Linked DNA regions of Homo sapiens. The protein of the gene in region 2 purifies or fractionates together with the protein of the main gene of each other region. This does not show direct contact. Each region holds a gene or a part of one and is shown on either strand. Other genes may lie near its edges.

What was found.
Region 1: the proteins of NAPG (region 2) and NSF purify together in Homo sapiens (affinity purification with mass spectrometry; 3 studies listed by BioGRID and IntAct, with this or other methods). This does not show direct contact.
Region 3: the proteins of NAPG (region 2) and STX6 purify together in Homo sapiens (affinity purification with mass spectrometry; 3 studies listed by BioGRID and IntAct, with this or other methods). This does not show direct contact.
Region 4: the proteins of NAPG (region 2) and STX7 purify together in Homo sapiens (affinity purification with mass spectrometry; 5 studies listed by BioGRID and IntAct, with this or other methods). This does not show direct contact.

What each region holds. Positions count from the first base shown.
Region 1 is NC_000017.11:46,691,661-46,698,688, forward strand, and holds part of NSF (vesicle-fusing ATPase), read left to right. Parts: intron 1-1,242; coding exon 1,243-1,408; intron 1,409-2,186; coding exon 2,187-2,261; intron 2,262-2,814; coding exon 2,815-3,002; intron 3,003-7,028.
Region 2 is NC_000018.10:10,542,999-10,550,026, reverse strand, and holds part of NAPG (gamma-soluble NSF attachment protein), read right to left. Parts: intron 3,702-7,028; coding exon 3,623-3,701; intron 1,729-3,622; coding exon 1,649-1,728; intron 1,061-1,648; coding exon 931-1,060; intron 1-930. UniProt on the Homo sapiens protein: Required for vesicular transport between the endoplasmic reticulum and the Golgi apparatus.
Region 3 is NC_000001.11:180,984,843-180,991,870, reverse strand, and holds part of STX6 (syntaxin-6), read left to right. Parts: intron 1-1,761; coding exon 1,762-1,887; intron 1,888-3,525; coding exon 3,526-3,632; intron 3,633-7,028. UniProt on the Homo sapiens protein: SNARE promoting movement of transport vesicles to target membranes. Targets endosomes to the trans-Golgi network, and may therefore function in retrograde trafficking.
Region 4 is NC_000006.12:132,503,096-132,510,123, forward strand, and holds part of STX7 (syntaxin-7), read right to left. Parts: intron 494-7,028; 5' UTR 436-493; coding exon 351-435; intron 1-350. UniProt on the Homo sapiens protein: May be involved in protein trafficking from the plasma membrane to the early endosome (EE) as well as in homotypic fusion of endocytic organelles. Mediates the endocytic trafficking from early endosomes to late endosomes and lysosomes.

The DNA.
Region 1 (7,028 bases), on a different chromosome or scaffold from region 2:
TAATCCTCAGTCTCATTATGCTCATTTAATTTTTATTATCCGTATGTTGTCATATTTAGGTTATGTTCATTTTTTACCAGTTTTGTTAATCCCTAGTATTTTTTGTTTTTGAGACGGAGTCTCACTCTGTCGCCCAGGCTGGAGTGCAGTGGTGCAGTCTCGGCTCACTGCAACCTCTGCCTCCTGGGTTCAGGTGATTTTCCTGCCTCAGCCTCCAGAGTAGCTGGGATTACAGGCACCTGCCACCACACCCAGCTAATTTTTGTATTTTTAGTAGAGATAGGGTTTCACCATGTTGGCCAGGCTGGTCTCGAACTCCTGACCTAAGTTGATCCATCCTCCTCTGCCTCCCAAAGTGCTGGGATTACAGGCAGGAGCCACCGCACCCGGCCGTGTTTTTTGTTTATAAAAGAAAAAATTTCCAGAGTGCACTTTACTCCCTGATAGGAGACTAAATTACTTAAATATAAATTTTAGAAGGTACGTGTTAAATTAACCTAATGAATTAGTAGCATTCAGAAGTGTTTGTATCTGTTAAAGATTCAAAATATACAAACTAATTTCTTTTAATGGTGATTCTATTTCTAGTAAACTAAGGCAGAAATCATTATGCAGAAGAAACAGCACCCTGTTAACCATGTTCTTTTTATAAACCGTCTCTGTTCTCACTTTATTGTTAGGAAGGCGTAATCTGTTTTCATGTAATATAAGTACATGTGAGTCATGTTGAGTTTCTTCACTCATTTGTCCAATTCCCAGTCAACCTGTAGGTGGAGTTAACCTTTAGTTACATAATATAACGAAACAAACATTAAACCTACTGCTTCTGGGACAGTCTTCTCACCAAAACTCAGGGAAAATGGGAGGGTGTTGCCACTGACTGACTTAATGAAAGTATCTGACAAATGTAAGGTCTTTCAAATAGTGAGATAAGAAATGTATATAAATTATTTGATCGACTACTTACTTTCTATCTATACACACACACTATCAGTATATAATGTGTATTTTCATTTTATAGCTATTAAATATGAGGTTCTAGAATGAGTTTTCAGTTTGCAGAATTCTGAGAATCTAGTTCCAACACCTTTGAGAGGACAACAACCACAATTGCACTTGCCATATTTATTAGTCAAAATGAAGTGAAGTCAATCTGTTGAAAGCTTTGTTTTGTTTTTCTGATTAGTTTGTTTAATAAGACATTCAAATTATGATCTTTAATATAATTTCTTCCCCTAATAGCTTGGTGCTAACAGTGGTTTGCACATCATCATCTTTGATGAAATTGATGCCATCTGCAAGCAGAGAGGGAGCATGGCTGGTAGCACGGGAGTTCATGACACTGTTGTCAACCAGTTGCTGTCCAAAATTGATGGCGTGGAGCAGCTAAACAACATCCTAGTCATTGGTATGTTTACTTTTTAAAAAAGTACTATTCATTCAAAAACGTTAGCCATAAGTTCTGAATTAAGATGTGTGTAGGTTGTGATTAAACTGTTTTGCCAGTGTTTCCAAATTAGAATCCAGTGATATTGAAGAATCTATTGTAATGCCTAGGCTTAATAGGAAAAATAAAAGATGGATTTCAGTCACTTGTAGGTTTAAGCTTATAGCTCACCCACAGGTGAAAAAGATGTAGGTTGAAGCTTATAGCTCACCCAAAAATGAAAAATACACATGAAACAATGGAATGCAGTGGTTTTCAAACTGGGTCTTGCAGGCCTTCGGGGGTCCTCAGAGGTGCTTTCAGGGTCAGTGAGGGCCAGGGAGTGCGTTTCAGATCCTACATCACTATTATAACTTCCTCTTTTAGCTGTTTTATGTACTGAGGTGCTTCTGAAGATGACTTCTGGGGGAAAAAAAAAAAAAACACCCTGCTGTTTTATGAAGTCTGAAAACCACTGGCCTGTAAAAAAGAGAAGGAACTTTGGAGTCAGAGAGATCGTGTCACATTGCCCCTCTGTCACTTTGACAGATTATTTACCCTTTGAATCTTAAATTTTCTTTTTAAATACTGGAAGTTTTCATAACATTTATATTCCATTGGCTTATACAGTAGTGAAATAGTAAAGCAAAGTCTCCTTAGCTTGTTAGGGAAATTACTATTCTTACATATACTAAAAGGACATTTGATTTTATTTTTGAACTCTGATCATTTGTTGTTTTGTTTTAACATCTGTGTTCAGGAATGACCAATAGACCAGATCTGATAGATGAGGCTCTTCTTAGACCTGGAAGACTGGAAGTTAAAATGGAGATAGGTAAGGAGATCTGTCACTGATTGGGTGTGTGGTGGGGGGAGTGGAGGCATTTAGAGTTCATTAACAGGAACAATGTCATATGGTGTAGTATTTTTTAGAAAAGGTTTATATCATGAGAAGTAGATGTTTACATGCTTGAGTACCTATAAGGAAAACATTAGGATCATAATAATCTCCTCTAGGCTGGGCGCAGTGGCTCACACCTGTAATCCCAGCACTTTGGGAGGCTGAGGCAGGTGGATCACTTGAGGCCAGTTGTTCGAGACCAGCCTGGCCAAGATGGTGAAACCCCTTCTCTACTAAAAATACAAAAAACTTAGCCGAGTGTGGTGGTGTGCACCTGTAATTCCAGCTACTCGGAAGGCTGAGATAGGAGAATCGCCTGAATCCAGGAGGCAGAGGTTGCAGTGAGCTGAGATCGTACCACTGCACTCCAGCCTGGGAAACAGAGCGAGACTCTGTCTCAAAATAATAGTAATAATAATAATGATAATCTCCTCTGATGGTGCTTTCGAGACTAGGAAAATGCCTATTTTATTTTTAATTTCATCAGGCTTGCCAGATGAGAAAGGCCGACTACAGATTCTTCACATCCACACAGCAAGAATGAGAGGGCATCAGTTACTCTCTGCTGATGTAGACATTAAAGAACTGGCCGTGGAGACCAAGAATTTCAGTGGTGCTGAATTGGAGGGTCTGGTGCGAGCAGCCCAGTCCACTGCTATGAATAGACACATAAAGGTCAGGAAAATCAGCTAAACAGATTATAAACATTATGCCAGTATTCTTTCTCTTTCCTTTCAAGCATATCAAGGGGTAGGGAAATGCTGACTTTTGGTGGAGAAGAGATGGTAAAAGGAATAAGAATTAATTGTCAACTGCTAAATCTTCAGAGTAGCAGGAAGGAAGATAATGTTTGCATCTGCCCTGTAGTAACCACTGACTCATCTACCTTAGGTCATCACCATCTGACACAGACACGTAAAGTGAAAATTTTGAAGAAGTGTTTTTAAATCTTTGTATTGTATTAAAAGTTGTAATATGGCCAGGCATGGTGGCTCATGCCTGTAATCCCAGCACTTTGGGAGGCTGAGGCGGGCGGATCACAAGGTCAGGAGATCGAGACCATCCTGGCTAACACGGTGAAACCCCGTCTCCACTAAAAATACAAAAAATTAGCCGGGCATGGTGGCGGGCACCTGTAGTCCCGGCTACTCGGGAGGCTGAGGCAAGAGAATGGTGTGAACCCAGGAGGCAGAGCTTGAAGTGAGCTGAGATTGCGCCACTGCACTCCAGCCTGGGTGACAGAGCGAGATTCCGTCTCCAAAAAAAAAAAAAAAGTTGTAATATGTCAGAGGAAGTGGGAGTTTCCACGTACTAGAATTTTGGGGGCTGCTTTATTCAGCAAATATATTGAATAGTTGATGTGTTCAAGCTATTGGGCTGGAGACATAAAGATAATTGTGAACTCTTCCCTCAAGGAGTTCAGAGTCAGGAAAATGGACATATTTTCAAATTAGTACAATAATATTGTAGTTACCATGGTAGAAATACGTACTAGGATACTTTTATTTTGATAAAGTGCTCTTGATCTTCCATCTCTTCTCTCCTTTAGGTTTTAGTTACCACCTGTAGACAGATTTACTGAACATATCTGTCTCCTACTTTCAGATTTGTACTAAATACCCTCACCTAGATGTTTTATCAGGTCTCAGATTTAATATTGCAAAACCAAATTTATTGTCTTTTTTACTACTTTCCTTTCTGCTCGCATTTCCCTGTTTATCCCAATTTCCCAGGCTTAAAACATCAGGATTATCTTTGATTCCTGGCACTCTACTGTGCCCTAGGTCAAGTCACTTGCCAAATTTTTTCAGTTCTGTCTTGGCAGTGCCTTTTAGTTCTCACTGCCACTACCCACCTTCTCTTTGATTAACCTTCCTGTATCATATCATTCAACCATTCAGACACTTTCAGTGATTCCCCATCATTTACAAAACAAAGTACAGGCTTCTTTTGGGTCTTTTGGGTCCTCTAGATCTGACCCTAACTGGCCTTTCCAAATGTGCTCCTGATTATTCTCCACATACTTCAGCCAAACTTAAATAATCACCGGTCATCAGACATTAATTTATTTTTCAACATCTCTGCTTTGGTTTTGTTTTTTTTGCATCACTGAGGATCTTCATCCTCTACGTTTACCTGTCTTTTCAAAACCTGGCTCATATGCTACCACTGTCCTCACACCTTTTCACATTTTCCCTTTCAAGAATGTTATACCCGTTTCCTTCTTGAAATAGTAATGTATCATTTATGGTACTGTCAGTTGACTTTGGTTCACAGTAGATTTATTCGGCATCTACTGCATGCTAGACCCTGTGCTAGGAGTTAATACCCCGACTGCAAAGAAGTAAAGTACCTACCATTAAGCTGCCCTCAGTCTAACCCTCCACGTGCAGTAACAGAAAGTACATGCAAGGCAAGAGAGTGAACTCATGTCAGATATGGTCAACTTGTGGGGTGAGAGAAACCTTCATATGCATGTCTGTTGGTAGAGCAGGGCCTTTTAGGTAGAGGGAACAACATATGCAAAGAAGCAGAGACACAGAATAGCATAGTGCGTTGGAGTAGTTTAGTATTGCTTCAGCATGGAAGTTAGGGGAGGGATGGTAGAGAGATTGTGGGGGATAAGTCAGGAGACTAAAGTAGGGATGGAGCACAAAGAGCCTTTTATACTCTGCTAAGAAGTATGGACTTTTTTTCTGTGAGTAGTGCTAAGCCATTGAGTTTTAAGAATAGCAGTGACATAGTGTTAAAACATAAGATCACTCTGGCAGCTCTGTCGAGTGGAGTAGTTAGAGGAGTGGAGTTGGCGACACAGGACAAGAGGGGGAGCTTTTATAACAGTTCAGGCAAGAAATAAAAGCCTGAACAGTTAGGTTGAGTATGTAGATATTTGGGTATATCCTATCACTGGTTCTAGACCAGGAATCCAGCCAACTACCAGTTTTTATAAATAAAGGGCTTTTTTGGAACAGTACACATTAATTTGTGTACTGTCTATGGCTGCCTGCATGCTACAGTGGCAGAGTTGAGTATTTGCAATAGGGGCTGCATGGCCCACAAAGCCTATTTTAGTGCTTTTATTTTAGGTACTATCTGCCACTTTACAGAAGTTTGCTGGCCCTTGTTCTAGACTTTAAATCCTTATCTTATTCACCTCAGAGTCTCCCATAGTACCCCAGATAGATCTAAATAATGAGCACATGGTAGGTGTCCAGTAAATTATTTTTCTTTTTTTTTTTTTGAAACAGAGTCTTACTCTGTCGCCCAGGCTGGAGTGCAGTGGCACAGTCTTCGCTCACTGCAACCTCTGCCTCCTGGGTTCAAGTGATTCTCCTGCCTCAGCCTCCCAAGTAGCTGGGACTACAGGCATGTGCCACCACGCCCAGCTAATTTTTTGTATCTTTAGTAGAGATGGGTTTTCACCATGTTGGCCAGGCTGGTCTCAAACCCCTGACCTCGTGATCCGCCCGCCTCAGCCTCCCAAAATGTTGGGATTACAGGTGTGAGCCACCATGCCCAGCCAATATTTTTTAAATGAGTAAACTTACGTAACTATTCTGAATCACGCTCTATCCATAAGTCATAATTTCCCTACATAATAGAGGTGGATTTGTTCTAGCTCAAGAATGCCAAAGGTTTGGATGGTGTGGGAATATTGTATTGGGTCTTTATATAATGGATCCATTCAGGGACTATGTTTTTATTCTTCCTTGTTTGTTTGTTTTGAGACGGAGTCTCACTCTGTCGCCCAGGCTGGAGTGCAGTGGTGCAATCTCGGCTCACTGCAAGCTCCACCTTCCAGGTTCAGCCATTCTCCTGCCTCAGCCTCCCAAGTAGCTGGGACTACAGGCACCCACCATCACGCCTGGCTAAGTTTTTGTATTTTTAGTTGAGATGGGATCACCGTGTTAGCCAGGATGGTCTCGATCTCCTGACCTCGTGATCCGCCTGCCTCGGCCTCCCAAAGTTTTGGGATTACAGGCGTGAGCCACCATGCCCGGCCATGCTATACTGTTTTAATAAGAAGAGATGGCAACTTCAAGAAAAATGATGTAAACAGTGTGAAAACTGGTCCCTACCATACTGATCTTTCATCTCAGACCACATGGGTGCATCTTGATGTAATCCACAGTAACTAGTTTACTAGTTGTCATATTTTTCATATGTGTTGGCCATGGAATTTTTCTCTTATTTAGTCATCTGTCATTTTAACTACAATAATCCTATCCCAAAATTTCACTTTAAGCCGTTGTCTCAGTAAGAAACATGCTTTCTTCAAGCATATATTGGGTTTATCTACATATGAGGCAATGAGGGATGGTGGGAAGATCGCAGATATCGTAGTCAGAAGGTGTGGTTATGCATTATATTTCTTCCACCTTTTTGTTTCTGACCTGTCAAGGGGAGACACTACCTATCTAATCAGATTTTTATGAGAATGAAAGCAAATACTTTATATAAAAGTGCCTTGTAAACTCTATAAATGCTAGTTATCTCCATTTTTTTAATTGGCTGATTTGAGAGGATATCAGTACTTTTCAATATATGAATTTCTGATTTTTATTGACTCTTTGTAGTTACACATTTTCTAATTGTAAAGCTAAAATGTTTGTCACCCTTGTACATAATATATTATCCTTCTGATTTGCAAGTAAGCAGTAGTGCAAATAGTTCATGTTTCCATCACTTTTTTCCACATGA
Region 2 (7,028 bases):
ATGTTTTACTCAGCTCTAAAAAGACACAGCCTGGCTCCCCACCCTCAGGAACACCAATTCTACCATTCAGATGGAAAAACAAAGCCCAACAATGCTGCTCCCCAGATGCCTCATGACCATGGTGGGACAGGTACACAACTAGTAAAAGTTTCAATTATAAATTTTTTTTAATTAAAACTTTAGAAATATATATATTTTCAAAACCTATGTAAGACGTTATTTAGAAAAAAAATTATCTACATATATCATTATAATAAACAACTGAAGGCCTTAAGTTGATCTGATACTATGATGATACTCTAAAGGCCTAAGGCCAAACAGGTACTTACAAATCTACTGAAAAAGACAAATGAGAAAAAATAAAAACTTATAGTCATGGTTCACTTTATGTGCAAGACATCATGTGAGGATATTTCTCACACACTGACTAATGTATTCTTCACAACAGTCCAGCAAGACAGGTACTAGTGGCTTCATTTTTACAAATGAATTAACTGAGGCTTAGAGATAATTAATGACCTGCAACACACAGCTAGTCCTCACAGATTTTCATAGGTCTACTGAATTACAAAGGCCACTACAGAATGGACCTCTTTCAGAGAGTCCGTCTAAAAGAAATGAATAAAAGCAACCTACAGAGGACAACAGATAGAGGAAAAGTGGAGAAATGAGCCTCAATTTTAAAATATGTATATGGTCAACAGAGTTAGATGGGTGAGTAAATGGCTATACACCACACAACTAACATCTATTTTATCTAAATCTATGGTGAAATTCAATGCAAGTGGTCAGTTTCCTTATGAGTAGTAGCTTGAGAAGAAAAAAAGAGGTAGGAAAAAATCTCTTAAGTACATGGGTAAAAAATAATCTCACTAGAAACCTCTTTCTTTCAAGAGAAAAGATGAAAGCTATGCAAATGGGTCCACTTACATCATTGTCCATGTACTTGAAAAGCGGTGAGTTGCAGACATCTGACACCTGATCTTGGTCTTGCTGGTCATAACCTTCAAGAAGCTGTTCCAGGGCAGCACAGTCTTCACTGCCATTGAACCCAGGGATGCTGCAGTAAGCACAAATCACACGTCTTCACCTTCTCCTTAAAAGAACACATCTCAGGCAGGGATGATTCTGCCCCTGGCATGTGACACTGTCTGGAGACATTTTGGTACTTAAAAGTGTGGGAATGCTAGTGGCATCTAGAGGGCAGAGACCGGGGATCCCGCTAACCAGCCTACAGTGCACAGGACAGGCCCGACCACAAAGAATTATCCAGCCCAAATGTTAACAGTGTTGAGATTAAGACTGCTCATGTTAAACACCGAGAAAATTCCTCATTTTGATTTCTGTAACATAAATCTGATAATTTTTTCCCCCTTTTTCTTGTTCTTTTTTTCTTAGAAGGCAAATAAAATGACTAAAATGACTAAAGTCATTCACTTCCATGGAGGTCCCCTAGAGAAAAATACAGGAAAGGGAAAAAAAAAAAAGGTGTAAAACACCCACTGTAAAAGATGAAATGGTAGATGAGCACTCCTAAGATTTAGAAATGACAGTTTCATGGCCAGGAACATGTGTCCTAGCAGCAATCTTAGTTGTAGACACAGAGGTGTCGCCACTGCAAGTCAAGAGGGCCCAGACAACGTCTTACCTATAGCTCTCCCGGACACATCTTTCTGCAGCTACATAGTCATTTCTGTGTAGATGAACTAAGACTTGAGCAATTGTTTTCTAAAACAAAAGAGAGGATCATGGTCAAATTTACATCTGTTTAATAAAGTCAATAACCTGGCAGTATTGAAAACACCTGGAGTTTAACTTTCAGAGTCTTTGTTTGTATAAACAGAGATTTATAAATGCTATAGTAACTTCCACGGGACACCTGAGGGGAAATATCCTAGAACAGTACTTTTCCAATTCTCATGTCCTGGAATTTGGCTGCTAGGGGCAAGCCTGGGATTCACCCATTTCTAACAAATTCCAGGGGGCACTCCTGCTGCTGGTCTGGGGACCGCACTTTGACACAAGCCTTAGATCACAACCACGTTTTAAAGAGATCTCTTTCAAATATCTACACAGATTCAATCTTGAAAAGTGAATAAAAAAGAAGTGGGGGGGACCCGTAACACCACAATGATACTTAGAATCCTTAAAAAGAAACTAGGAAAAAGATGTATGAGTGAAAACTTCAGATAACAGAAACAATGATAGTATTGATAAGTCAACAATAAAAGTAGTAATAAGATCAAGGATATGACTGATAAATTACTGGAAAAATAGGTCTTCATGAAGTATTTTTCCATCTTTTGGTGTCTCTATTGTTTAGGTAACTTTTACTGATCTATCTTTAAGTTCACAAAGTCTTCCTTCTGTCATCTCTGAGATTAAGCTTATCCAATTATTTTACTTCAATAATGTATTTGCCAGTCCTAAAATTCCCAATTAGTTCATTTTTATAGTTTCTATAAAAATAATTTTTCCTATAAAAAACAACAGGTCCTCTTTTCTATTCATTTTAATTGTGTTTATCTTTACCTCATGGAGCAACTTATAGTTGCTTCAGTCTTTATGTGATAATGCCAACAACCCTGGTCACTGCCGGGTTGCCATCAGTTGTCTTTTCTCCTGAAAACTGGTCATATTTCCAGGTTCTTGCATGTTGAGTAATTCTGGATTGTACTGTGAATGTGATGCTGCACAGCCTCTGCTTAATTTTCAGGAGAGTACAGATGTTTTCAGCAGGTAATCACCCCAGTTAGGTTCAGACTACATGTGGTGCCTTGTTTTTGGTGGATGGAAGTTCTACACTTAATTCAAATCCTTTGCTATGTGGCTTTGGGCCTGTTCCATGCATAAGCCCTTCAGAGGGCAGTGCAACACTTCGACAGTGATGAAATCTTAGCTCTCCAAGCTTTGCGCTGCACTGCTACTTTGAGGCCTGTCTCAGCACAGCTGAAGAGTAAACCCAAGACTTGTGTGGGCCACATCCACACTCAGGGGACTCCGTTTCCAGCTCTCTCCTTTCCGGAATTTTCTCCTTGCTCTCTAGCTCATTTTCCTAGTTCCTCTGGCAAAAGAGACTGGGGTCCTTGTGGAGTTTTATCAACCTGAGCCATCATCACAGTGTAGCTCCATGCCTGGGACAAGCTTGGAGCAAAGCCAAAGGAGAGGAAAACAATGGGACCTCTTCTCCCATTGCTGGTTAGAAAGGCGGGGTTTCTTTTGGAGTTTTCATTGTTGCAGCCTTTGCTGCCCAGCTCCACAACTGTGGGCTTCTCTCAGGGCAGGGCAATGAATGCTGCAAGAGGAAATGGAAAAAAACCCGAGAAACTCATTCCCATGGTGGTTGTTTCTCCACGTGTTTGCTCCTCTCCTTAGTCTCTTTTTATTTACTTTTCAGAGTTCAAGGGTGGTTGCTTTTGTATTTTATCCAGTAGTTTAGCTGTAATCAGCAGAGAAACAAGCTGTAGTGGGCTTACTCTATCTTGGTCAAAAATAGAGGCCCATGAAGTATTATTTTACAAAAACATAGAAATACCCATAGAATCCTTTCTTAAGTACTTATTCATACCAGTATAAAAAATCATCTAATGTAATACCAAAAACAAACACTTTCAAAGAATACCTTATAACAAGTTGGATAATTCTCAATTTCCTTATAAATATTTTTTTCTTTCTGAATAGAGAGTGCCGCCTCATCAAACCTAAAACAAAACACAGAAATGTAAAAAAAGCAGGTCTAAATGATCTATAGCAGAGGTCCCCTGTGAAATGTACTTGACATCATAGATTGTAGAGACACCAGGAGGACAGGTATTATTAGCAGCTGCCCCAGGACCCAGGTTTCCACATGCTCTGCTCATCTGGCTTACCTTTCAAATGTCTGACTCCCCACTTTCAGGCTGCACGCTGACAGAAAAAGCAAAAGAACTCAAGGATGGGTTAGGTCAAACGGGGAGTTTTAAGCTTAGTAAGGACTGTCCAATAGCGAGTGTCACGACTTCTTCGTGATACGTACTTGAGACGATCTTCGATTAAATCACCCAAGATTTCTTTCCTCCCGACTGAAAGAACATCCAGACACCCAAGGCACTCGGTGCCTTCCCCCGACTGTGTCCCTCCATCACATACTCCGCTGCTGCCCCAGTGGCCCTAGCAAGCTCTGAGGTGCCTAAAAGGGCAGCAGAGGGGAGGCAAGTTAGAGACCTAAACAAAAGCCTTCCTGCATCTTCAGTCTTCAACATTCATCTTTTCCATTGACCCTCATACATTCTCCTTTTCTTCCATTTTGCCCAATGGCAGAATGAAGACGAAAGCAAGGAAAGGGGTCACCAAAACATTTCCCCCAAACCCTCCAGGCCCTTACCCCTTTCTCATTCCCCCAGCCCTAATTCCATCAAACCCTAATTGAACCTCCCCTCCCTGCAAAGCTGTAGTATACTCCAAATGCCAGGACTCCCTCAGTAGTACAACTTGAGACTGAGTGAAATGTACAGTCTTTAGCCACTGCTCTCATCCCAATAACAGTCCACGGTTATGGGAGAAACTACCAGGGTCTGGGCATTGGGAATACACACAACCAACAGCCAAAAGGGGCAAGAGTCTGTACTATCGGGATTCAAAGGGAGGTAAGTGGTATTGTAAACCAAAGTAAAAATACAAAAATGTTATGCTTGTTATGCTATATGCTCTATTTTTCTGTCTTTTTATTTTTTTTTGAGACGGAGTCTCACTCTGTTGCCCAGGCTGGAGTGCAGTGGCGACATCTCGGCTCACCGCAACCTCTGCCTCCCGGGTTCAAGTGATTCTCTTGCCTCAGCCTCCCGAGTAGCTGGGATTACAGGCGCCCACCACCACGCCCAGCTAATTTCTGTATTTTTAATAGAGATGGGGTTTCGCTATGTTGGCCAGGCTGGTCTCGAACTCCTGACCTCAGGGGATCCACCTGCCTCAGCCCCCCAAAGTGCTGGGATTATAGACGTGAGCCACCGCACCCAGCCTGTATGTTATCTTTTTAAAAATAGTGGCATGTATACACAGACACACACACACACCACACACACAGTGGCTTGGCTTATGCTATTATGGCTACTTACATCATGAGTTAAACTGAATCTTTATGGGATGCACGCTGGCAACTTAGTGCCTTATAAAATGACACTCATAGGAGAAATGCATTCTGAATTTCCACAGGTCAACTTGATAAATTTTTGGAACAAAGTCAATTTATAAGCTGGGTTTGGTAGCAGAATTCTAAGAGTGCTCCCGATTCTTGCCCCTTGTAAACATTTCCTCTATAATCCCCCTTTAAGTGTAGGTGTGACCCTCGGAATATGATGGGCCATCCTGTGATTAGGACACAAATCAGCTGACTTCGAGTGAATCACTGTCTGTGTGGGCCTGACTTAATCAGGTGGGCCCTTCCTTAAGTTAGAGGCCAGAGTACTCCTGATGTCTCGAATTAGCAGCAAACTGCCATGCTGTGAACCACCAATGGGGGCACACGGCCAGGAACTGAAGGCAAACTCAAAGCTGAGAGCAGTTCCTGGCGAACAGGCAACAAGAAAACAGGAATCTCTTCCACACAGCTGCAAGGAAATCAATTCTGCCAACAATCAATGAGCTTGGAAAAGGACCCAAGCCTCCGGTGAGATCAGCCCCCTCCGACACCTTCATTTCGGCCTGGTGAGACCCTAGCTCTGCTACCTAGCTACACTAGGACCTAGCTACACTGTATCCAGACTTCTGGCCTCATGAAACTGTGAGCTAATCAGTGAGTACTGTTTTAAGCTGCTAAGTTTGTAGCAATCTGCTATGCAGAAATAAAAAATTAATGCAAGGCGGACTACAGCTACATGTATCTGTATCATTTATAATTGTGACCCTGAGCTTATAACAGATCCTGTTTTATAAAATAAATTATGGTCAGAATATTCTGTGCCCGTCGTGTCTAGATTATATCATTCTATTAGCAATCTCAGTATTTTAAACTTTTCATATATTTAACTATAAAGGGTGCATTCTTTACGCATAAACTGTTTATTTCCTTGACATAATATTAGCATTTCTATGTGCTAATATATAGTTACCTAACAAAAGAGCCAAGCCCTTACATGAGTTTGTAGTCGAAAAAGTTGATCGACTTTGCTAAAAGGCCATGAAATTAGCATACAAAGCCATCTATTTTTAAATGTATCCAGAAAAGTATTAGTTACTTATTATAATGAAACACAGATGCTTTCAACTTTTCCATCAGGTAATACTTAATATTCCTAACAAAATGACAAGAATTTGGTTTTGCTGAAAAAAGAATAAATTGTTTTTATCTTCCCCAAATGTAACAAAATTGAAACCCCACAGAAGTTATGTGCAAATGGCAGAAAACTGTCACAGAACCTCATTCATCCCCAAGCTTTCAACAGACACCTTCTACACCACAACTCAAACTGTTCCTCTGGCCCCAACTATTTCCTGAACTCCAAAACCTATTTTTAACTACCTACAGAAATGTTTAGTTTATGTGTCATATTCCCAGCTAAGTTTATTATCATCACTGATAAGTTTGTTTCTATATTCCTTATCTCAGTTATTGATGGCACCATGGACAGAACAGTTATGCAAGACAGAAACCCAGTGATTCTCCTTAATAGCACACATCCCACCCCTGAACATATACACACCCAACCCTCCTTGTGTTTAGGATCTAGTGACTGTCTCAGACAACTGGTGAGAAGCAGCTCTTTTCTTTGCTAAGTGAGTCTTCTAGGAGGGATTTGGGTTCACTGAGACCACACACCTTGTCTCAGAGGCATAGACCTTCTCTCAGAGGCACAAGGTCATGATCAACTTGCTGGAAAGGTCTTTTTTTCTTTTCTTTTCTTTTTTTTTTTTTTTGAGATGGGAGTCTCACTGCAACCTGTGCCTCCTGGGTTCAAGCGATTCTCCAGCCTCCCGAGTAGCTGGGATTATAGGTGTGCGTCATCACACCCGGCTACTTTTTGTATTTTTAGTAGAGAAGGAGTTTCACCATT
Region 3 (7,028 bases), on a different chromosome or scaffold from region 2:
TGGAATTTTGTTTTAGGCTATGAGTGAAATGTCAAGTTGCAAATTTTCAAGGAATAGCAGGATCAGGGCTCTCTAAGCACTCCAGCAGGCATGGGCCTTGCCACGTTGTGCCAGGTGCCAGGCTCTGTGCTGCTCCTTGCCTCACCAGCACCCCTGCTCTGGCACCCACACACAGGTGCATCTTCCAGTCCTTGGGCCCTCTCTCAATCTCTATCCTATTATCACAAACATTTGGGATCAGACTGATGAACTTTAAGCTATTTCACAATAAAACGTGGATGATTTGCCCTATACTTAGCTCTACCTAAGTGTACACCATGGAAAACGTAGGAAAAATAGCCCTGTGACCTCAGGAGCACACAAGGCCCTGGTGGTGTCCCAGTTCTCTGTCCTTAGGCCAGTGATGCATTATAGCATTTTTCTGACCCTAAAAAAATTGTCACTATTTCCTCATGTCTTCCATAGAGGTCCTTAGAGTGTGGATCATAATGAGCAGGATCTTTTCAGTCTTGATAGCCCTAAGACCAGGTCAGGGCAGAGCCACCCACAAAAAGCCTTGGATCTGCTTTACACCAGAGACAGTCACCATCCAGCTGGACTGAAGCTCTGGGCCCCTGGAAGCTCTTGTAAGAAAAGCTTCTAATAACTGAGCTTCCCTGATCCTAGCCCCTGAAGTCTGGCCATTTGATGGAGTTCACCCCTCGCAGTCTGAGAAGAGGTCAGTGTCAGTATGGAGGAAGGTCATGGGGCTGTTGGAAGGGTTTTCAGACAGAACCAAGTAACCAGGCAGGCTTTTAATAGTGCCTGAGATTTTTTTTAAATTACCCGATAGGAAAATTTGGCAACTCTACAAGGAAAAAGAGTCTTAGTTGCTAGCGTCTTCTGGCTCTTGCCTGCGGGGCTGGTGTGAGCAGTTACTTTGACCAGTCAGGAAGGCTTGTGGGGATCTGGTCAGAACCAACTGCTGAGATGGAACTCTCACATTCCTGCCTGTCTTCTTCATGTGAGGAAGACATACCCATTTATGGCTGCAAACTTCCTTGAATTCATACTTGGGAAACCCGACCCTTGTGTCTGGGAGCCCTGGTGGAGAACTCTGACTTTAGGGCAGCCCTTGCCTCGGTTGCCAGGGTCAGGCATTCCTTGTGGTCATACCTGCCTGTAAAGTAACCCCCAGTTGTCATCTGGAAAGCCTGAAGGACCCTGGATTCTATTCATGGGTTAAACTTAACAGACATTGATGGTTCTTGTGCCTTTGTGTGTGAAGGGCTATGGCTTACCTTCTTGTCATTCCAGGGAACTCTCCCTTTCCCCCCACCAAAAAAACCCACAACTTCCCCTGGGTCACACTTTTTTTAAAAAAGTACTCTAGATCTTCGGAATCAGGTTGACTGGAACCTATGGGTTGCTGAAGTTCCACAGGTACCAGGAAGAGCTCTTTTACAAGAGATTGAATGCTTTTCAATTATAACACAGTATATAGATGGGTGTTTGTTGATTTAGCAGACGTTTATTTGCACTTTAAGGGGACAAAGCCCATTGTGAGGCCTATTGGGAGAGCTTAAAGACATAGAGGGCCCTTCCTGGAATTCCTTAAATAGTACCACCCAGGCACCAACCTACACCACTACATAAAAGCCTTGCCCAGGGGAAAATAGACAAGAAATGTGAAAACTCTTTATATCACTCTTGATGCATCACTTGTTCAGAGATAGTAATTGTTTGTTTCTCCTGACTCCTCTGGTTGTTCTTCTCACACAGGCACTGCTGGGAGACAGTGGCAGCCAGAACTGGAGCACTGGAACAACAGATAAATATGGGCGTCTGGACCGAGAGCTCCAGAGAGCCAATTCTCATTTCATTGAGGAGCAGCAGGCACAGCAGCAGGTACCCCAAGGACCCCAGACTTAGGACGGGCCAGTGGGAAACAAGACACCCCCTTAGTTCCTTTGCCAGCCATGGGGTCTTGTGGCTTAGTGACAAGGAGGGTAAGCCAGAGCTTGTCCTGTGTTGATTGTGTTTAATAATTGCATATGTAAAGGGTTTCAAAATCTTCACAGTGTGACTGCTTCAAGAGAACCAAGCTCAGCCAGGCGTGGTGGCTCACACCTTTAGTCCTAGCTACTGAGGAGGCTGAGGCTGGAGGATCCTTGAGCCCAGGAGTTCAAGGCTACAGTGAGCTTCGATCATGCCATTGCATTCTAGCCTGGGTGACAGAGCAAGACCCTTTCTCTAAAAAAATAAAGAACCAAGCTCAGTTAGTTCTCTTAGAAAAAACAGACCTTTGTCCATCTCAGCAAAGACACTTTCAGAAAGATCTCTCATTTTTTTCTTCGAAAATTATTGATTGGTTTCTTTTTTTTTTTTTTTTTTGTGAGACGGAGTCTCACTCTGTCACCCAGGCTGGAGTGCAGTGGCACCATCTCGGCTCACGGCAACCTCCGCCTCCCGAGTTCAAGCAGTTCTCCTGCCTCAGCCTCCTGAGTAGCTGGGACTACAGGTGCACGCCACCACGCCCAGCTAATTTTTTTTTTGTATTTTAGTAGAGACGGGGTTTCACCTTGTTTCTCAGGCTGGTCTCGAACTCTTGAGCTCAGGCAATCCACCTGACTCAGCCTCCCAAAGTACTAGGATTACAGGCATGAGCCACCGCGCCCGGCCTATTGGTTGGTTTTGTTATATGTAAAGATGACTGCTTTTGTGTAGGTTAAGGGGTAGAAGGAAAATGAAATTGATTATGTCTGTTGATGCCTTTGATATGTAGCTGTATTAATAAAAGCAAGCTAATGATAATGTGTCTGGGGATTTGAGGAGCATGTACCCATTGAAACTATTGATTCTTAAATATTGTGTTTTATGTATACATGTAGTTTATATGTTCTTTTGTTCTTTACATTAGTATGTCTGCTTAACCAGTTGTCTACTTAAATTGCTATTAAACCCAGGAAATTTTTTTTCTATAGAAAGTGAGAAGAATGCAACACAACTAAAAGTAAATATTTGTCAGTCAGTAGTTGTCCTTGAGGTAACTTATTGCCACAGGGAATCCTTTCGTTTGTCCTTGAAGAGAGAGGAAAGACTGCATAGTTTCCCCACATCCAGAGATTTGCCAGACTCTCTTGTATTTAAGCTGTGGCAGTCTGTTGTGGATTGAGACCTTGATCTTGGCAATGGGCTTCCTCCTCCCAAACATCCCCATGTCTCAATGGTCATCTGCACGTGTGCTTTCAACCATTGTCTGCTCCATTATTGGACGTCAGCCAACCAGAGTAAATCTCTCTTGGTGGTTTCAAGCCCCGCTGACTGTTCACAAGTTGGATCAGCAGGAGATATCAGTAGCTTAACAATCCAGCCTTTTGAGCAGTGTGTTCTCAGAGGCAACGGTCTGGTCCTTTGATTTCTGGGCTTTGCTTCTGAATGTGAATTGTCCCAAGTTGGCAAAGAAACTAGCAGCTGCTAGAGTGCTGGGCTTGGAACCAGGTAAGATGGATTTTAATTGCTTATTTCCCATTTCTCTGGCACCAGTTGATCGTGGAACAGCAGGATGAGCAGTTGGAGCTGGTCTCTGGCAGCATCGGGGTGCTGAAGAACATGTCCCAGCGCATCGGAGGGGAGCTGGAGGAACAGGCAGTGTGAGTATTGAGACACCCCTCTCGCTTCAGTGAAATTGAGGGGCAGAGCCATCCTATGACACCCCTAAAAAGCCTGGCAGCTACGTGGCTGGTAAAATCAAAAGCTATTTTATTCATAGCTGCATTTTTATTCTGTTTTACAGATTAGCCTCCCCAAAAGAAGCAATTCTACTTCGTAAATTTTACTACAGGCTTTAGGTGAAGTTGTTATTATTTTTAAACACCTCCAAAAACAGACACAGATGTCTCTGAGCAGATACTCGAAGTATAGTTATGAATGGGAATATGAAACAGAGAAGCCTCTGTAACCTGTGGGAATTTTTGTTCCAGAGAGGATAGGACATGAGCTGACTTTATCATCCCATGACTCTCCTGCTATATTGAACAGACACGTTTTGCTTTGAATCTTAAATTATTGTAACTTTGTTTTTTTTTTTTAAAAAAAACTTACAAATTTAACGCCAGTTAATAAAAACTCTTTCCTCTCAGAAAAATAAATAAAAACAAAACATAACCTCAGTTTGTTTTTCCTTATGAACAATCCCTTTTGCACCCAGAAGTTCGATGGCAAAAACTGCATTCTTAAATGCTGCCACATCATTTTGTAAATCTTTTGAAAGAGAAAAATGAAAAAACAGTCCACCAGGATATTTCAGAAACTTTCCTGTCTCGATATTACGTTTATCATGACACATTGATTGATTATGAATTCTTAGTGGGCCCGTGTTCTACACCGGGCCTTCTGGAAGCCAAGGGATATAGAAGGGAACAGAGCAGACAAGACAACCCATCTCTGCCAAAGAGTTTGCCGCTTGCAGGGTAGAACGGATATTGGGTAAGTGGCGAGGGGTCATTAGGTGATGGCAGTGAAGTGGGAGGGCCCCTGTGATGGGGCCAGTGCATGCTGCCTGGAGAGCCCTGACTTAGCCCAAGGTCCCTGAGGAAGAGGGGTTTAACTGAAATCTGAAGGATGTGTGGATGCTAGCCAGGTGAGGTGAGAGTTGGTGTGGAGGCAGGTGGTGTGGGGTGTGTAGACCAGGAGGAAGAAAATGCACCTGTGAAGATGGAGAGGTGCACACGTGCATGGAGCAGAGAGGTTCCATGTGTCTGGAGGCAGAGAACAAACCAGGGAAGGCCTTGTCAGCATGGTAAGGAGGTACGACTACTTATTCTCAGCATAATGAGAGACCAGTGGAGGTGAGGTGAGGAGTGATGGTGTGATCAGGTGTGATTTAGATGATGTGCTGCAGTGGAGTCAGGTAGGGAGACCAGGTAGGAAGCTGGAGTAGCCAGAATCTGTTTCATGTCTATCTAAAATGGGTCCTGACCCTAAAGTTCAGTTTGAGGAGGGGAAAGGACTAATGGCCTGAGCTTCTCTGTTGATGAGGCAGCCTGGCTGGGCAGTGGGTAATAGAGTCAGAGGGACTTCCAGTTAAAGATGGTGCATTGACACACCCCTACCTCCACTCCCTCTCCACAGCTCACTAGAACAATAGTAAAGGGGTTTGTTTTTAAGGGCATGAAACCGCTGGGCATGGTGGTTCACACCTGTAGTCCCAAGTACTAGGGAAGGAGGCTGAGGTGGGAGGATTGTTTGAGCCCAGGTGTTTGAGGCTGCAGTGAGCTATGATGGCACCACTGTACTCCAACCTGGGTGACAGAGGAGACCCTGTCTCTAAAAAAATAGAAATAACAGATAAATGGGAAAAAGCATGGGATTTGGACTTAGACCTGTGCCATCCAGTATAATAGCTACTAGCCACATGTGGCTGTTGAGTAAGTGTTATGTGGCCAGTCTGAATTGAGATGTGCTCCAGAGGTAAAATGCTTACTGGATTTTGAAGACTTCATATAGAAAAATATAAAATAGCTTATTAATAATTTTTATATTACATGTTGAAATTACAGTATTTTGGCTATATTAAACTAAATACAACAGAATTAATTTCACCTGTTTCTTTTGAAATTTTTACAAACATGGCTACTAGAAAATGTAAAATGGCATATGTGACTCATATTTTTGTTGGATGGTACTGAGATAGATTTGGGCTAGCAACTTGGTTGGTGAGTGTCCATGGACTGAAGGTCGGATGATGTGCCTGATGATGTGCCTGTTTTGTCTTCAGTATGAAAAGTCATACCTAGCGCAGAAAGGTAGCTCTTGCTTTTTAGAGTTTGGCCCTGCCTGGATAGGCCTGCCAGCTGCAGCGCCAAGATGCTGCCAGGATCTAAAATGAGTTAAATATTTTTTAATTTGAAAATTTAGGTAAGGGACAAAGACTTATTTTAGTTGTCAACATATATGTAACAGTTGATTTAATGAAGAGTTGGTTGCCCTGAATCCTGCAAGGCTGTCAGGTGTCTATTGTGGGCACAGATCAAGACCAGGAGTTTCTAACTGCCATTGATGCTGTCAGAGTTAATACAGCCTTTTTAGTAAGACTGTTAGTACTAATTGGCATATTACATTCTAGCCTCAGAATAATCATTTACTAATCAAAAGTTGAAAAGTCTGGAATATTTAGTGACTTATGAAATAGGCACTGCTGAAATAGTATTTTGGGGTTTTCTTTCCCAGCTGCACATTGGACAGCAAATAGTGTAAGCCTGCTGGAGTCAGTTTTCCTAGTGGGAAATACTGGTTTCTCTGTGAGGACAGATGGGGAAATGCGCGTGTGCATGCACAGACACACTGTCACACACCCCATCAGGGATGTTAGTCCTGAGGCCTTCTGGGTTTATAATAAAGCACGTAGTGCCTTATAGGAGGTTATTTTATTAAAGTACATTCCTTAACTCATATTGACATAAAGTGCTTTTGTTTATTACCTGGTTCTCACAAGAGCCCTGTGAGGGAAGTTGAGCTGATAGGATTGCCCTATTTTACAGGTGAGGAAACAGTCCCAAAGAGTTATAGAGTATGTTGTCGAAGGTAGCAATGTAAACAAGTGGCAAAGCCTGGTTGTCTGCCTCAGATAGCATTGTTTCTACCACATTGCACTGCCACTGAGTTTGTGTTATTGTATAGACAGGTCTATAGTCTTGCAGTTCTGAAATCTAGGAAGCTCTAAAGAAATCTCGTTGTTTTTTTTTTCTTTAAATTTGCCGCAAGCTCATGTTACAGAAAAACCTTACCTGAACTGACTCCAACTGTGATTCCTCATAGTTTTCTCTGCAGAAATATTAAGTATCTGATTACGGGGACTGCCCCAGACCCTCCTGGTGGTGTCCTCCTAGTGGTGTCGACTAATACAAAGGATATGTAATTTAGGCTTTTTTTAATCCTGAGAATTCCAAAATCAAAATCCTATCTTGTCCCAAGGATTTTGGATAACAGAGTGAGGTCCTGAAACCCAGTGTTGCCTATTTTGTTTGCTAAAATGGAGGCCTGGTCCT
Region 4 (7,028 bases), on a different chromosome or scaffold from region 2:
GCTACCTGGTTCCAAACCTATGAGACTGAGTCATCAGGTCTCATCATCTCATCTAGAACCAGATAGCTTTAAAGCAGATATAAGAATCCATTATCCTTTTAAATCTTTATTTTATTTAATGAAATAATGTATTATGTGCCTGGCCCTGACTTCCTATAGAAAAATGCAGTAAGTGTTATCTCAAATATAATTCTCTTGCATTCATTCTAAAGAGTTCGAGCCCTTTAAAACCTGTTGTTAGAGGAATGCTCCTCCCTCTCTCAATCAGCAGAGTTGTCCTTTTATGAACCTCCACCAAGTTCAGTTAAGAGTGGATACAAATAGTGAAGTCCATTTAAAACTCAACTCACAACACTGTGTGATCTTCTGGATGTTAGAAGAGATCCTCTGGGCCAACTGGGCGGGGTCACCACCAACTCCTGGAGTGTAAGACATGGTTGATGTTCTTATTCGCTAATTTCATCAGATGCTGTGCAGTTTTCTAAGCAGTCACCTAAATAATATAAAAGTCACACAGATATATTTTTTAAGTTACTGGCTTACATTTTCCAAATTAACAATCTGTGAAGTTACAAGGACAAACTTGATTAATCTAATAGAGTTGAAATCTGGCAAAGTGACACATCAAATAGCAAAACTCTCATGTCTACTAAAAAAAAAAAAACTGGACTTCAAAGGACAGAGTCATGTTAAACACATCAAACAATTAAAATAAGGTTCAAATTGCATATTTCCTTTGAAAACGTCTTTGATCTCTTCAAGAAAAATTATTAAATCCCTTACCTGTATATAATTTTAGTTGTTTACATATTTTTTCCTTAACTAAACTCCAAACAATTATAAGGCAGGGCCCACATGCTTATTTATCTTTCTCCAATATTTAAAACAACTCTTAGCACAAACAGGCATTTAAATATTTATTAAATGGAACACAGACTTCAGGCTATCCCCAGAAATTTCACTGTATTAGGTTGTGCAAAAGTAATTGCAGTTTTTACCATTACTTTTAATTGTGGTTTTTGCCATTAAAAGTAATGGTAAAAATGGCAATTACTTTTGTACCAACCTTAATATCTAATTTAACACACACACAGGACCTGCTCAGGAATGTATGATTAATAGGGCTCTAATTTTAATGGAAAAGGTTAAATCTGAAATAGCAGAGCCAACTACTGCGAAGCAAATGTCATATAAAATGTTTATCAAACCTTCCTGACAGAGGAAGGAGAACGAATGACTCTCCCCTTTCAGCAGCCAGCATCTCAGAATAGAAGAGACACTGAGATACTGCCACAGGAGGCAGGTGAGATGACATTCTCTACCTCTTCAATCCACACCACTCCAATCAGGGTTTGGAAAGAAGGTTGAAAAGGAATGTCCCTGCATACAGAACTGCGCACAGCAAAGAATTTCAACTACCGCCACCCCATCTTTTCCATGAATATGCACTGGAATACTGCAAAATTGTTGGTGGTCAATTTGTAAGCTAGCTCTCTACTAAGAGCCTGGTACATGCCCAGCATTAAACTAAGCACCTGGGAGATGCAAACAAAACAAAACACACTGACACAGTATCTGCTCAAATCAAGTTTGTCATTTAGGAGGAAGGATAAAGTTAATAATGCAAACCAACAAAAAACCCCACAAATCCATAAAAGATCACGTGCTAGGCTAAAATGAGAAGGGCTACAAAAAGAAAAAATGACCATCATCCTTGTCTGGAAAGAATTTATGAAATAGAAACATAGGATTTGGATGCTTGGTTATGACCAGTATGCAGAACAACAAAGGCAAGGACGTGAAGGCTGGGGTGGAGAGACCCAGAGCACGTGGAAAGGCCACATGCAGTATGGTATTTACAAAAGGAAGGGAAGGTTCCTGGCCAACCCTGGATCAGATGATTCACAGCTGGGACAAGGGGAAAACAACATAAAGGGAAAGAGAGGAATGGCCTAACATTTCTCGCACATCTGCGACACAAAAAGTATTTCACAGACTAATTTTTTCACAACCTCCTTCAATTAAGTGGCATTATTCTTGTTTTAATGATGAGCAAACAGCGGGCTTATTATGATTAAGTAATGGTAACCCAACCCACCCACAGGTGGAGGTGAGATTCAGTCCCAGGGTTCTGATGCCAAGGCTATCCATGCTTGCTACCACATAGAACTAATGCCACAGAAGATTTCTGGTAGAGAAGAAGCCACAGTGAAGTATGTGTCTTTGCTCTAAGGGACAGTGTTGGCAGGAAGTACAACAGCTGAACTGTTGAGACCATTAGAACAGTACTGGTTCTATGCCTGGAACTCTGGTGCACTTTGAATGTGCCTGGCCACGCTGAAAGTCCTGGTGGCTTTTAGATATTCTCCAACTTCCCTCTCAGGTACAGCTGATCTATTCTGGGCTCTCTGGGTCTCACCAAATCCTAGAGATGGATCCAAAAGCAATTTCATTAAAGGGTAAATTCAAACCTAAAGTCAGACAGCTGGACCACTACAGTGGGGAGACAGGAATAAACTTCCTTCCAGGTAGCCTTGGACTTGGGCCCAGACAGAACAAGAGTAGACATGGGGATTCAATGACACCAACACCATCCGGAACATCCTTGAAACCATGCAATTTTAAATGCATCTCCAAGTCACTTAAAAAAAAAAAAAAAAAAAAAAAAACACAGGTTTTGAATAGCCAAAGCAATTTTAAGAAAAAGAACAAAGCTGGAGGCATCTCATTGCCTGACCTCAAATTATACTAAAAGGGTATAGTAACTAAAACAGCATGATATTCATATAAAAACAGACACATAGAACAATGGAATGGAATAGAGAAGTCAGAAGTAAAGTCACATATCTACAGTCAATTGATCTTTTTGACAAAGTTGACAAAAACATACACTGAGGAAAGGACGCCCTTTTCAATACATGGTGCTGGGAAAATTGGATCGCCCCATGCGGAAGAGTGAAACTGGACCCTTATCTGTCAACATATAAAAAAAAAAATCGACTCAAGATGGATTAAAGACTTAAAAGTAATACCTAAAACGATTAAAATACTAAAAGAAAATATAGGGAAAACTCTTCTGGACATTGGTTTAGGAAAAGAATTTATGACTAAGACCTCAAAAGCACAGGCAACAAGACAAAAAACAGACAAAATGAGATTTAATTAAACTAAAAAGCTTTTGCACAGCAAAAGAAATAATAAACAGAATGAACAGACAACCTGCAGAATGGGAGAAAAATATCTGCAAACTACACATCCAACGAGATTAATATCCAGAATTTACAAGAAACTCAAACAACTCAACAAAAAACCCCACAAATAACCCCATTAAAAAGGGGGCAAAGCACATGAATAGACATTTTTCAAAAGAAGACATACAAATGGCCAAGAAGCACATGAAAAATGTTTAACATCAGTAAGCACCAGATAAATGCAAATTAATACCACAATGAGACATCATCTCACAACAGTCAGAATGGCTATTAAAAATTCATCCACAAACACATCTTGAACGGAAAAAAAAGAAAAAAAGTCAAACAAGTACAGATGTTGGCAAGAATGCAGAGAAACAGGAACACACACACTGTTGGTGAGACTGTAAAGTAGTACAACCTCTACAGAAAACAGCATGGCAAGTCATCAAAGAACTAAAAATAGAATTAATATTTGATCCAGTAACCTCGTTACTGGGTATCTACCCAAAAGAAAAAAAAAACCATTATACCAAAAAGATAATCTGCACTCATATGTCTATTGTAGCAATATTCACAAGAACAAAGATTTGGAATTAACCTAAGTGCCCATCAAGTGTCTATTAACATTCCTGAATGGATAAAGAAAATGTAGTGTATATAAATGCAATGGAATACTATTCAACCTTAAAAAAGACTGAAGTTATGTCTTTCACAGCAACACAGATGAACTGGAGGCCATTATCTTAAGTGAAATGACTCAGAAAAAAGTCAAATGCTGCATGTTCTCACTTGTAAGTGGAACCTAAATAATGTGTACACATGGACAGAGAGTGGAATAAGAAGACATTGGAGACTCAAAAGGATGGGAGGGTGAGGGATGAGAAATTACTTAATGCGTACAATGTACATTATTCAGGTGATGATTACACTAAAAGCCCAGACTTCACGCTATGCAATATAACCATGTAACAAAACTGCATGTGCACCCCTTAAATTTATATAAATAAAATGGCTTTATTGAGATATAATTTATTGAGATATGGCAATACAATACACCTACTTGAAGTACACAAGCCAATGGTTTTTAATATATTTACAACATTGTACAATCATCACTTTTAGAACATTTCTATTACGCTAAAAGGAAAGTTTGTAATCATTAGCAATCGCTCTCCATTTCTCCCCAACCTCACTGGCCAAAGGTGACTACTAATCTACTTTGTATCTTTATAGCTTTGCTATTCTGGACATTTCATAGGAATGGAATCATACAATGTGTTCTTCGAGACTAGCTTCTTTCTCTTAGTATGCTTCCAAAGTCCATCTGTGCTGTATCATATATCAGTCCTTCATTCCTTCATTATTGCCAAATAATATTCCTTCATTATTGCCAAATAATATTCCAAGGTATGGAGAAAGACAATTTTCTCTTGGTTCAATGACATCTTCCTTTCTCCTTTCCCTCTATCAAGTAGATCTCTGGAAAAACTGGCTTACAAGCCAAAACAAACACATTGAATGAAAAAATGTTCAGTTTGTTATTCATGTAATCTCTGGGGATGCTCCTCCATATACATGGTTCCATTTTAATCTATACCTGAATGAGTCGCACATCCATGTCTCCAGCTCGTACCCTTGGCTTTCTCTCGTGTCTACATGTCTGTGAAGCTACAAGAACTCAGCCATTGCCTGTGCGGCACACCATGGAAGTAGCAACTGGAAATTTCTACTTTGGGCAAGACACTTAGCATTTGGGCCCACTGCCAGAATCAAAATGAGATAATGCACATCCAGAGAACAAATGCTTTTCCACCCTACACAGAGGAAAGTTATGATCTGTTCTTGCAGCTGCAGGACCAGCATCAGCACAAGACCAAGAGAAACTCATCACCTGTCTCAAAACCATGCAAGCACACCTGAGGCCTACTCTCTCTCCCATAAAGAGTTCCATCAAGTCAAGGACAGTATTCTACAGCATTTTCCTTACCCTTAAAACTCACACCAGTGTAGCCCAAGTCTTCTCACTGTTTTCTTTCAAGGCCACCTTTTTTCCTCTCTGGAAAATCAATCACTTAGTCACAAACACAATCAATTTTCTTCATCCCTTTCCTCAAGCTACTAAATGTGAGAAAGTTCCTGCTGGTGAGACAATTGGCAAGTGGCTTCATTCACCCAAAGAGGTGCTACTTAGATTGACTGGAATTATGAGTTTTGTTTTACTTTTTCTTTGTTTGGCGTTGTTGTTGTTTGAGACAGGAGCACCCAGGCTGGAGTGCAGTGGTGTGATTACGACTCACTGCAGCCCTGACTTCCAGGCTCAGGCAATCCTCCCATCTCAGCATCCCGAGTAGCTGGGTCCACAGGCACCTGCCACCACATCCCACTAATTTTTTGATTTTTTTATAGAGATGGGGGTCTCACTTTGTTGCCCAGACTGGTCTTGAACTCCTGGGCTCATGCGATCCTCCAGTCTCAGCCTCCCAAAGTGCTGGGATTACAGGTTTGAGCCACTGTATCTAGCCAGGAATCATGTGTGAAGAATGAAAAGCAATTTGCAAAAGATAGAGAAGAAAGATGTGTAAAATAAAACAAAGTTAACAATGGCCAACACTCATCCAGGACTTACATTTCCTAAGCATTGTGCTTATGACTTTTAAATTTATTTTCTCAGTTAATTCTTATAAGCCTATCATGTGGGTATAATTGCTAATGTGATTTTTTTACATGAAGAAACTGAGGCATATCATTATGCCTCATTATCATTATAAGCAAAGGAGCAAATATTTGAAAATAACCACAGAGCCGACATTTTTTAAACACTAAGCCATACTGCTTCCTTGTATAACAAAATTGAGGGCAGGTGAACTCAGTTAGAAAAACCAAATTTGGGCTGGGCGCGGTGGCTCACGCCTGTAATCCCGGAACTTTGGAAGGCCAAGACAGGCAGATGACAAGGTCAAGAGATTGAGACCATCCTGGCCAACATGGTGAAATCTCATCTCTACTAAAAAAATTAACTGGGTGTGGTGGCATGCGCCTGTAGTGCCAGCTACTCAGGAGGCTGAGGCAGGACAATCGCTTGAACCCAGGAGGCGGAGGTTGCAGTGAGCCAAGATCACGCCACTGCACTCCAGCCCGGCGACAGAGCGAGACTCGTCTCAAAATAACATAACATAACATAACATAACATAACATAACATAACATAACATAACATAACATAACATAAAATAAAAAAAGACAAAAGAAAAACCAAATTTACCACTTTTCTGCATGCCCCATATGAAGTTTTGCTATTCCCACTCCTAAGATGAAGGAATATGTTTGGGATAACTACATGAGTTGATCAAGGTAACACAGAGGAATAGCTTACTCCTTTTCTCTATTATTCTGCTAATAAGTGGTATCTAAAAGGCAACAACAGTTGGCTCTTTTGATAATGAGACACACAAAGGAAAGGAACCAAATGGTTGTCTTTAAAAAATATATATACAAGCATAGACAGACAGGATAGGTAACTACAAATTGATTAAAAGCTTATGATCTCTGCATATAGGCTAAATGGATGCTGAGTTATTCAGATGTCTGCTTTCCACATCAGTCTCCATTACCTAGCCCAGAGCTGCTACGCACTAAAGTACTCTTGTTGAATACTTTTGAAAGCCCACTCAGAATTCCTATTTAATTGCTCAGAATAATAATTATATAATTCATTACCTAGACCTGTACTAACAGACTAGCCACTAACTAAATGGGCTGTTAAAATTATAGTGGTTACTAGAAGCAGAGAAGGATGGCGGGAAGGGGATAGCCAAAGGTTGGTTAACTAACACCAA